Homo sapiens: one gene and its partners. The protein of the gene in region 1 binds, or shares a complex with, the protein of each later gene. Each region holds a gene or a part of one and is shown in the gene's direction. Other genes may lie near its edges.

Region 1 (3,654 bases):
CGTAATAGTGGCTGTATCATTTTATATTCCCACCAGCAATGTATGAATGATCCGGTTTCCCTGTATCTTTATCAGCATTTCAAGTTATCACTTTATTTTAGCCATTCTGATAGGCGTGTAGTGGTATTTCATTGTGATTTTAATTTGCGTTTTCCTTTTTTTTTTTTTTTTGAGACAGAGTCTGGCTCTGTCACCCAGGCTGGAGTGCAGTGGCACGATCTCGGCTCACTGCGACCTCCGCCTTCTGAGTTCAAACGATTCTCCTGCCTCAGCTTCCCGTAATTTGCATTTTCCTAATGGCTTATGATATTGGACATCTTTTCTTTGTGTGTCAGTGTGTGTGTGTGTGTGTGTGTGTGTGTGTGTCACCCAGGCTGGAGTGCAATGGCGTGATCTTGGCTCACTGCAATCTCCCCTTCCCAGGTTCAAGTGATTCTCCTGCCTCAGCCTCCTGAGTAGCTGGGATTACAGATGCCCACCACCACGCCCAGCTAATTTTTTGTATTTTTAGTACAGAAAGGGTTTCACTATGTTGGCCAGGCTGGTCTCAAACTTCTGACCTCGTGATCTGCCTGCCTCGGCCTCCCGAAGTGCTGGGATTACAAGCGTGAGCCACTGCACCTGGCCTTGGACGTCTTTTCATGTGCTTATTTGCCATCTATATGTATCTTCTCAGGTGCAATGTCTCATGTCTTTTGCCTGTTTATTTTTTATTTTTTATTTTTTATTTTTTGAGACGGAGTTTCACTCTTGTTGCCCAGGCTGGAGTGTAATGGCGCGATCTCAGCTCATTGCAACCTCAGCCTCCCAGGTTCAAGGGATTCTCCTGCCTCAGCCTCCCAAGTAGCTGAGATTACAGGCTCGTGCCACCATGCCCAGCTAATTTTTGTATTTTTAGTAGAGATGGGGTTTCGTCATTTTGACCAGGCTGGTCCTGAACTCCTGACCTCTGGTGATTCACCTGCCTCAGCCTCCCAAAGTGCTGGGATTACAGCAAAGTGAGCCACCATGCCCAGCTATCTTTTGCCTGTTTTCTAATACTATTATTTGCTTTTTTACTGTTTAGTGTTTAAGAATTCTTTTTATATTGTGGATACTAGCCCTTTGGGGATAAATGGTTTACAAATATTTTTTCCCAGTCTGTAGCTGTCTTCATTTTCTTAACAGGGTTTATCTCAGAGCAAAAGTTTTTAATTTCAATGAAGTCCAGCTTATCTGTTTTTCCTTTTATGGATTGTGCTTTTGATGTCATGGCTAAGAACTTTTTGCCTAGCCCTAGATCTCTGAAATTTTCTCCTAAATTTTTTTTCTTAAAAGTCCATGATCTGCTTTCAGTTTCTTTTCAGGGTTTCAGGGTTTTTGTTTTGTTTTGTTTTGTTTTGTTTTGTTTTTGTTTTTTTTGCCTATGAATGTCCACTTGCATCAACACCATTTGTTGAAAAGACCATCTTTCCTCCAATGAATTACTTTTGCTCTTTTGTCAAAAATCAGTTGGGCATATTTGTGTGGGTCTATTTCTGGAATCTCTGTTCTGTTTCATTTGTCAGTGTCTGTCACTCTGCCAATACCACACAGTCTTGATTACTATAGCTATATAATAAGTCTTGAAATTGTATGGACTGATTTTTCCCATTGTAGTCTTCTTTATAAAAATTGCTTTAGCTATTCAGCTTCTTTTTTCATCCATGTAAGTTTTAGAACAATCTTGCCTCTATTTTTAAAAAGTCTGGGCCGGTCACAGCGACTCATGCCTGTAATCCCAACACTTTGGGAGGCTGAGGTGGGCAGATCACTTGAGCTCAGGAGCTCCAGACCAGCCTGGGCAACATGGTGAAACCCATCTGTACAAAAAATACAAAAATTAGTTGGGCGTGGTGGCATGCCTGTGGTCCCAGCTACTCAGGAGGCTGAGTAGCTCCTGAGTGGGAGGATTACTTGAGCCTAGGAGGTTGAGGCTGCGGTGAACAGTGATCATACCACTGCACTCCAGCCTGGGCGACAGAGTGAGATCTGAAAGAAAAGTCTTGCTAGGATTTTGATAGGATTTGTGTTAAACTGGCGTTTGGGGGCAATAATTGACTTTTTACTATGTTAAATCTTCTAATCCATGAACATTGTGTATCTCCCCTTTTATTTAGATCATCTTTGATATCTTTTATCAGTGGTTGTAGTTTTCAGCTTATAAATCCTATACATATTTCTTTGTGGAATGATTATAAAGGGTATTTTAAATGAGTGTCCAAATGTTCATTGTTACTATATAGAAATATAATTCATTTTTGTGTGTTTATCTTCATCCTATATCCTTGCTGAACTAATGTATTCTAGTTTTTTTTTTTTTTTAAGATTACTTGGGATTTTCTACGTAGACAATCATATCTACAAATAGGGACAGTTTTATTTCTTCCTTTACAATCTGAATGCATTTTATTTCCTTTTGTTGTTTGCATTAGTCCGTTTTCATGCTGTTGATAAAGACATACCCGAGACCCGGCGATTTACAAAAGAAAGAGGTTTAATGGACTTACAGTTCCACATGGCTGGAGAGGCCTCACAATCATGGTGGGAAGCAAGGAGGAGCAAATCACACGGATGGCGTCAGGCAAGGAGAGATAAAAGAGTAATGAGAGCAGACACTCTTGCCTTATTCTCAATTTTGAGGGATGAGAATTCAGTCGTCTTTTTTTTTTTTTTTTCTTTTTTTTTTGAGACGGAGTCTCGTTCTGTTGCCCAGGCTGGAGTGGCGCAATCTCTGCTCACTGCAGCCTCCGCCTCCTGGGTTCAAGGGATTCTCCTGCCTCAGCCTCCCAAGTAACTGGGATTAGAGTCTGGGCCGATCACAGTGGCTCATGCCTGTAATCCCAGCACTTTGGGAGGCCGAGGCGGGTGGATCACCTGAGGTCAGGAGACCAGCCTGGCCAACATGGTGAAACTTCGTCTCTACTAAAAATACAAAAATTAGCTGGGTGTGGTGGTGGGCGCGTGTAATCCCAGCTACTTGGGAGGCTGAGGCAGGAGAATCACTTGAACCTGGGAGGCGGGGATTACAGTGAGCCAAGATCGCACCACTGCACTCCAGCCTGGGTGACAGAGCAAGACTGTTTTAAAAAAAAAAGCAAATTTTAAAAGACAAATAACAGTATAACAACTATTTATATAGCATTTACGTTGTATTAGGTATTATAAATAACCTAGTGATGATTTAAAGTATACAGAAGGATATTCACAGATTTTTATATAAGGAACTTGAGCATCCTAAGATATCTTTTTTTTTTTTTTTTTTTTTTTGATATGGAGTCTCGCTGCGTTGCCCAGGCTGGAGTGCAGTGGTGCGATCTCGGCTTACTGCAAGCTCCGCCTCCCGGGGTTCACGCCATTCTCCTGCCTCAGCCTCCTGAGTAGCTGGGACTACAGGCGCCCGCCACCATGCCTGGCTAATTTTTTTGTATTTTTTTTTTAGTAGAGACAGGGTTTCACTATGTTAGCCAGGATGGTCTCCATCTCCTGACCTCGTAATCCACCTGCCTTGGCCTCCCAAAGTGCTGGGATTACAGGCATGAGTCACTGCACCTGGCCCTGAGATAATCTTTTTTATCCACTGGGGATCCTGGAACCAATCTCCTGAGGATACCAAATGATTACTTTATTCTTTTC
Region 2 (3,654 bases), on another chromosome or scaffold:
AGCTGGGACCACAGGCGCCTGCAACCACGCCCGGCTAATTTTTTGTATTTTTAGTAGAGACGGGGTTTCACCGTGTTAGCCAAGCGGTCTCGATCTCCTGACCTCATGATCCGCCTGCCTGGGCCTCCCTAAGTGCTGGGATTACAGGCGTGAGCCACGGTGCCTGGCCCAAAATCTTTTATCTACTGTGTTTTCTCTGCTTTTCTTTGTTCCTCTGGGTAGTTATCATTTTTGTTCCTTTTCTATCATAAATACTATTTCAGAAGAAATTGAAGGTAAGTGTGGTCAATTTGGCCCATTTTAACGTGTTCTAGACTTACAGTTTTTGTGTGTACACATTTAAAATAGTACGGTTTAAAATAACTGAAATTGGCCAGGTGCGGTGGCTCATGCCTGTAATCCCAGTACTTTGGGAGGCAGAGGCGGGCAGATCGCCTGAACTCGGAAGTTCGAGACCAGCCCGGGCAACATGGCATGAACTTTGTCTCTACTAAAAATACAAAAATTAACCAGGCATGGTGGCAGATGCCTGTAATCCCAGCTACTCGGGTGGCTGAGGCAGGAGAATTTCTTGAACCCAGAAAATGGAGGCTCCGGTGAGCCGAGATTACGCCACTGCACTCCAGCCTGGGTGACAGAGTAAAACCCTGTCGCCAAAAAAAAAAAAAAAAAAAAAGGAAACTACAACAAATTAAATAATGAAAATGAGTCTTCGTTTCAAGTTTGTCATAGTCTAGTGTTAGGGAGTTATTTAAAAATTATTGGTTTGGGCCAGGTGTGGTGGCTCACGCCTGTAATCCCAGCACTTTCAGAGGCTGAGGCAGCTGGATCACAAGGTCAGGAGTTCAACACCAGCCTGGCCAATGGTGAAACCCCATTTCTACTGAAAATACAAAAATTAGCCAGGTGTGGTGGCGGTCACCTATAATCCCAGCTACTCGGGAGGCTAAGGCAGGGAATTGCTCGAACCTGGGAGGCAGAGGTTGTAGTGACCCGAGATCGCACTACTGCACTCCAGCCTGGACAACAGAGAGAGACTTGGTCTCAAAAAAAAAAAAAAAATTGTTTTGTTTGTTGTTTGTTTGGTAAGAGACAAGATCTCACTGTGTTGCTCAGGCTGCAGTGAAGTGGCATGATCATAGCTCACTGCAGCCTCAAACCCCTGGCTTCAGGCTGTCTTCTGCGTTGGCCTCCCAAATGTTTGGATTTTTTTTTTTTTTGAATAAACATTTATTTTCTTTCTTTAAAAAAAAAAAAAAGAAGCAGCAGCTGGGCGCGGTGGCTCACGCCTGTAACCCCAGCACTTTGGAAGGCCGAGGCAGGTGGATCACCAGCCTGGCCAACAGAGTAAAACCCCATCTCTACTAAAAATACAAAAAAGTAGCTGGGCGTGGTGGTGGGCGCCTGCAGTCCCAGCTACTCGGGAGGCTGAGGCAGGAGAATCGCTTGAACCCGAGAGGCGGAGATTGCAGTGAGCAGTTGTTTTCTTAATTTATCTTTCTTTTTTACAGATATGCACCACCAAACCTGGCTAATTTTTTATTTTTTATTTTTTTGTAAAGACAGGGTCTCCCTATGTTGTCCAGGATAGTCTTGAACTCTTGGTCTCAAACAATCCTCCTGCTGTGGCCTCCCAAAGTGCTGGGATTATAGGTGTGAGCCACCATCATACCTGGTCCATTTTCTTTTCTTGGGTTTTTTTTTTTTTTTTTTTTTTTGAGACAGAGTCATGCTCTGTTGCCCAGGCTGGAGTGCCATGGCGCGATCTCCACTCATTACAACCTCTGCCTCCCAGGTTCAAGCAGTTCTCCTGCCTCAACCTCCCAAGTAGCTGGGATTACAGGTGCCCAGCCCTTTTGTTGTTGTTGTTGTTGTTGTTTTACAACACCCCTCCAACTCTGTTTTTCCCATTTTCTTTATTTTTTTAAACACTTCATTTTGAAATAATTTTAGACACAAAAAGTTGCAAAAATAGTACAAGGAATTCCCATACACTTTTCACCAAGATTGTCTAAATGTTAAAATGTCATATAACTACAAAAAATTAGAAATTTTACATTGATGTGTCACTACTGTATTATCTAGAGACCTTTCTCACATTTCTCTGATTGTCCCTTTAATGTCCTTTTCCTGGTCCAAGATCCAATCCAGTACAACAGGTTGCATTTACTTGTACGTTTCCTTAGTTTCCTTTAATGCGTATCAGCTGGTTCTCCTCAGTTTTCCTTTTGTGACCTTGATACTTTGTAAGAGTACGGGCCAGTTATTTTGTGAAATGTCCCTTAATTAGCATCTTAAACTTACTATTTATTGCTTAGAATGGTAAGACTAGAATCAGTGTGTACAAATTTCTAATGTGGCCAGGTGCGGTGGCTCACACCTGTAATCCCACCACTTTGGGAGGCTGAGGCTGGAGGATTGCTTTGGCCCAAGAGTTTGAGAGCAGCTTGGGCAACAAAGGGAGACCTCATCTCTACAAAAATTTTAAAAATTAGCCAGACATGATGGTTTGTACCTGTAGTCCCAGCTACTCAGGAGGCTTAGATGGGAGGATCACTTGAGCCCAGGAGTTCAAGGCTGCAGTGAGGTGTAATTACACTCCAGATGGGACTACAGAGTGAGACCCTGTATTTAAAAAACAAAAACAAAAACATTTAGAATGTGACTGACTTCTATGTCAAGATTTTCTAATATTCTTAGCTGTCTGAAGATGAAATAAGTTTATTTGGGTCATGAATTCCCTATCACCATGATACTCAACTAGAGTTAGGATGACCCAGTAGGGATATTACTATTTGGATTAAAGCACTAGATTATGTGTAGGTCAAATGAGTTTTAATTTTCTGAAGAGTTAATAAGATTGTGATTTGATGTAATACATTTAAACTTTCCTGGTTTTGAATTAACTTGCTTGGATTTTATTCAGTTACCAAAACTCTGGCATCAAGGTGATCATGTTTTATTCTGTGATATATATCTTCCCTTTTTTTGTGAGGTTCAAATCATTTTATGGTGAATTTGAGACATGATATAAAGAAAAAGTATTTTTAAATTTGACACATTTCTTAGTAAATAAATTGAAATGAAACAAATAATAATCTCCCTAGGCCTTTAGTTATTGGTTCTGCATGATAATGTGTTGGGGGGTGGAGGGAATCTGAAGTCTAACACATTTAACAGAAGCTAGTTAAACTTTATTTACTGTAGCTACTAATAAAGAGCTATAAACAGGGAAAGGTGTGTGTGTAAATGTTGTTTGTGGTGTCTAGGTAACATTGGTGCAGGAGAGAATTGAACTTGGTTTGTTTTTCTTTTCCTTCAGTTGCAGGAAGAGGCAGAGGAAGAGGAAGAGGAAGAGGACGTGGCCGTGGCAGAGGAAGAGGGGGTCCTAGGCGATAATGTCTCTCAAGATTTCAAAGTCATATGAGATTTGGGATATTTTTTGTACAGGTTGTGTTTGTTTATGTCAGTTTTTAATAAACATAAATGTGGGACAGAGCTGTCTATTTAGTATATCAAAGTTTTAGTAGTTTCCTCCACATTCACGAAATTACCACAGTGAGAGCTAAGCATTTCTACTGGGCAGTTTCATTTTTAGTTGATCAGGTTTTAAGTTTTTGAACTAAAATTTTTCTTTTTCTTTTTATGATGAAT
Region 3 (3,654 bases), on another chromosome or scaffold:
TATCTCATGTACTCCATAAATACATTTCTACTGTGTACCCACAAAAATTAAAAACAGAAAATTTTAAAAAAGAAAATGTACATAGTAGGAAATGTACAGCTACACATAATTTAATATGTATCTTAAAAATTTCATTTTTCAAATGATTGTACAGTAAGAGCCTTTTTGTTTGACATACAGCTCTAATGAATTGTAATAGATGTATTGATTTGGGTAACCACTACCACAATTAGGATATAGATGTTACACCACCTCAAAAAACACCCTTGTGCTATTCGTTTGTAGTTACACTTTCCTTCACCTCTGACAATCACTGATCTGTTTTCTATCACTATAGTTGTCTTATTTTTTTTCAATAATTTCAGTTCTAATTTATTTTTAATTTTTATGGCTAACATAATAGATGTGCATATTTATGGGCTACATATCAAATTTGATACAAGCATACAGTGTGTAGGCCAGGCATGGTGGCTCATGCCTATAATCCCAGTGCTTTGGGAGGCCTAGGCAAGCGCATCTCTTGAGCCTAGGAGTTCAGTACCAGCCTGGGCAACACAACAAAACCCCGCCTCTACAAAAAAATACAAAAATTGGCTATGTGTAGTGGAGCACACCTGTAGTCCCAGCTACTCCAGAGGCTGAAGTGGGAGGATCACTTGGGCTCAGGAGGCGGAGGTTGCAGTGAGCCAAGATCACGCCACTGCACTCCAGCCTGGGCGACAGAGTGACACCCTATCTCAAAACAAAAAACAAAGAAAAACATACAGTGTGTAATGATCAAATCACGGTAATTGGGATATTATTTCTTTGTATTAGGAACATTCCAATTTTACTCTTCTAGTTATTTTGAAATATACAATAAATTACTCTTAACTGTAGTCACTCTATTGTGCTACCAAGCTAACTAGCCAAACTAGTGCTACCAAACTAGCTAACCAAACTAGTGCTACCAAACACTAAATCTTACTCCCTTTATCTATTTTTGTACCCGTGATCCACCTCTTCTTTATCTTCTGCCTCCCCACTATTCTTCCCAACCTCTGGTAGCCATCATTCAACTCTGAAGATCATTTATTTTTTAGCTCCCGTATATGAGAGAGAGCACGCAATATTTGTTTTTCTGTGCCTGGCTTATTTCACTTAACATAGTATCTTCCAGTTCCATCCATGTTGTTGCAAATAACAGAATTTCATTCTTTTTTATGGCTGAATAGTATTCCATTGTGTGTATGTACCACATTTTATTTATCCATTCACCTCATGATGGACACTTAGGTTGGTTTAGCTGTGTCTTTTTGACTATGTCATATAAATGGAATCATACAATATGTACTTTTTGAGACTGGCTTCCTTCACACAGCTTAATACTTTGTGAGTCATTGAAGTTGTTGCAAGTATTAATAATGTATTCCTTTTTATTACTGAGTAGTTTACATTATATAGATGAGCCACAATTTGTGTTAACTATTAACTCACTGAAGATAATTTCATATTATTGTAAAATGTAATAGTCATTATCTTTTATGATTTGAAGATGGGAGGGCAATTCAAACTCGGGCTGCAGTTAAACTTAAATACATTTTAACTTCTACGTTGGCCTGCCCATTCTACTTTGTTTTATACAGGTTATCAGTGGGCATCTTGGCTGGGTTCGATGTATTGCTGTGGAACCTGGAAATCAGTGGTTTGTTACTGGATCTGCTGACAGAACTATAAAGGTAATAATGAAGGAAGAAAAAATAAACATGACTTTGTGTTTGTCATGTAAGTTTAATCAGTTATTATTTCCTGTGGCAGGAATTGCTATTGCAGTTCCTCTGTTATTTTAGACCTGAATAAGGAGTAAAATTTATCATTTATACTAATAAGTGTTCTAAATAAATATCTGTTTGAAAAGTGCTATTTAAACCACTTTTTCTTTACCTACTGAATACCTACCACTAATTCCTTTATACTTACATTGTTCTCTCCAACTGGTTACAAAATTAAGAGCATGCTCATTCATAGAAAATGTGGAAAATATAGAGAATTAGGAAAGTACATAGACCTGTATATAATCCTACCATTGTTAGATATTTGGATAAGTTTCGTTTTAGTATTTATTTCTGTAAGTATCAATACCTTCACTTCTAAGCTCTTTTCCTGTGTGTGTATCTTTTAAAAAATCATTCTTAGTATGTAATTTTGTATCTTGCTTTTTTCACTTAACGTTGTATCAAAGGCATATTCCTGTGAAAAATTTACCATCTTTTAAAGTGGTTGCATAATATTATATCATTTAGATAGTCTGTAATCTGTTTTCCTATTACTGGACAGTAGAGTTTTTAGTCTGATTTTCACCATTACAAGTAATGCTGTTAAGTTTTGTATATAAGACTTTTTCTGTATTTTAAATTATTTTGTTATGGTAGAGTTCCATAAATGGAATAAATGGGTCAAATATTTTTGAAGCTGATACCCAAAGTACAAATTACTTTCCAAATGGGTGAATCGATACTTGCAGTGTATGAGAGGATCCTTTTCAGCACATTGGTTGTACATTCCTTTACAAATATCTAATATGGTAAGCAAAAATGGATACTTAATCTTTTTAAAAAACTTTGTATGAAATTTCTAATGAGTGTGAACTTTTTCATATCTGTATTTGCTGCTTTTAGGATTTCTTTAAGTTGTTGCCAGCCTCAGTTAATTTAATACCATACTTTTCTTACTGTTATTATCAAAGATATCATTTATATAACAAGAAGGTTAACCTTTTGTCATCTAATTGCAAATATTTTTCCAGTTTGAGCATGCCAGTTTTTTTCTTGCTTTTATTTGGAGGGGAGTCATTTTGCAAAATTTTTTATTTTTACGTATTTGTTATCTTTTTCCTTTTGTCTTTGAAAGCTCAGTTTTAATAATCAGGTTTCTAAAATTTTGTTTTGCAGTAACCAGTGAAAGAAAAAAATAAATATTCTTTGATTGCAGATCTGGGACTTGGCTAGTGGCAAATTAAAACTGTCATTGACTGGGCATATTAGTACTGTGCGGGGCGTGATAGTAAGCACAAGGAGCCCATATCTGTTCTCTTGTGGAGAAGACAAACAAGTGAAATGCTGGGATCTCGAATACAATAAGGTAAGTTTGGAGTTAAGGATTTAAAACATTGTGAACTACTATTTATCTTTCTAATTCTAGAAGTTTTAACTTTCCTGCTTTGTCTTTAGGTTATACGGCATTATCATGGACATTTAAGTGCAGTGTATGGTTTGGATTTGCACCCGACAATCGATGTGTTGGTAACCTGTAGTCGAGATTCAACTGCACGGGTAAATGGGATAGAGTTGTGTATTTATCTGTAAATATATTGCATCTTGTAGGGTGCACTTTCGGTTTCAGTGTCTTCAATTGATTGATAGAGAATTAAAGATAGCTGTCTTGAGTCATCAATATCCTAGTCCCTAAGTTTCTTAACTTGCATTTTTTTCCACCTTAGTCTTCAGTTGTATGGCCTCACCATGTTAGTGTTATTAGTGCCCTGCCCCTGAAATGTGATATTCTCACGTTCCATTCTGTAACAACTATTGTCCATTAGTTCTTTCATTCAGTAGTCTTAAAAAGTAGTCCCATCATACTCATTCTTAGATTTTCAGTACCCTGATCTTTTAGCTT

What was found.
Region 2: SNIP1 (region 1) and SNRPD1 share a complex: the UniProt entries of both Homo sapiens proteins name them as parts of the minor spliceosome.
Region 3: SNIP1 (region 1) and PLRG1 share a complex: the UniProt entries of both Homo sapiens proteins name them as parts of the minor spliceosome.

What each region holds. Positions count from the first base shown.
Region 1 is NC_000001.11:37,547,787-37,551,440, reverse strand, and holds part of SNIP1 (smad nuclear-interacting protein 1), read left to right. Parts: intron 1-3,654. UniProt on the Homo sapiens protein: Required for pre-mRNA splicing as component of the spliceosome. As a component of the minor spliceosome, involved in the splicing of U12-type introns in pre-mRNAs. Down-regulates NF-kappa-B signaling by competing with RELA for CREBBP/EP300 binding.
Region 2 is NC_000018.10:21,625,740-21,629,393, forward strand, and holds part of SNRPD1 (small nuclear ribonucleoprotein Sm D1), read left to right. Parts: intron 1-3,322; coding exon 3,323-3,399; 3' UTR 3,400-3,654. UniProt on the Homo sapiens protein: Plays a role in pre-mRNA splicing as a core component of the spliceosomal U1, U2, U4 and U5 small nuclear ribonucleoproteins (snRNPs), the building blocks of the spliceosome.
Region 3 is NC_000004.12:154,540,251-154,543,904, reverse strand, and holds part of PLRG1 (pleiotropic regulator 1), read left to right. Parts: intron 1-1,625; coding exon 1,626-1,718; intron 1,719-2,970; coding exon 2,971-3,120; intron 3,121-3,209; coding exon 3,210-3,311; intron 3,312-3,654. UniProt on the Homo sapiens protein: Involved in pre-mRNA splicing as component of the spliceosome. Component of the PRP19-CDC5L complex that forms an integral part of the spliceosome and is required for activating pre-mRNA splicing.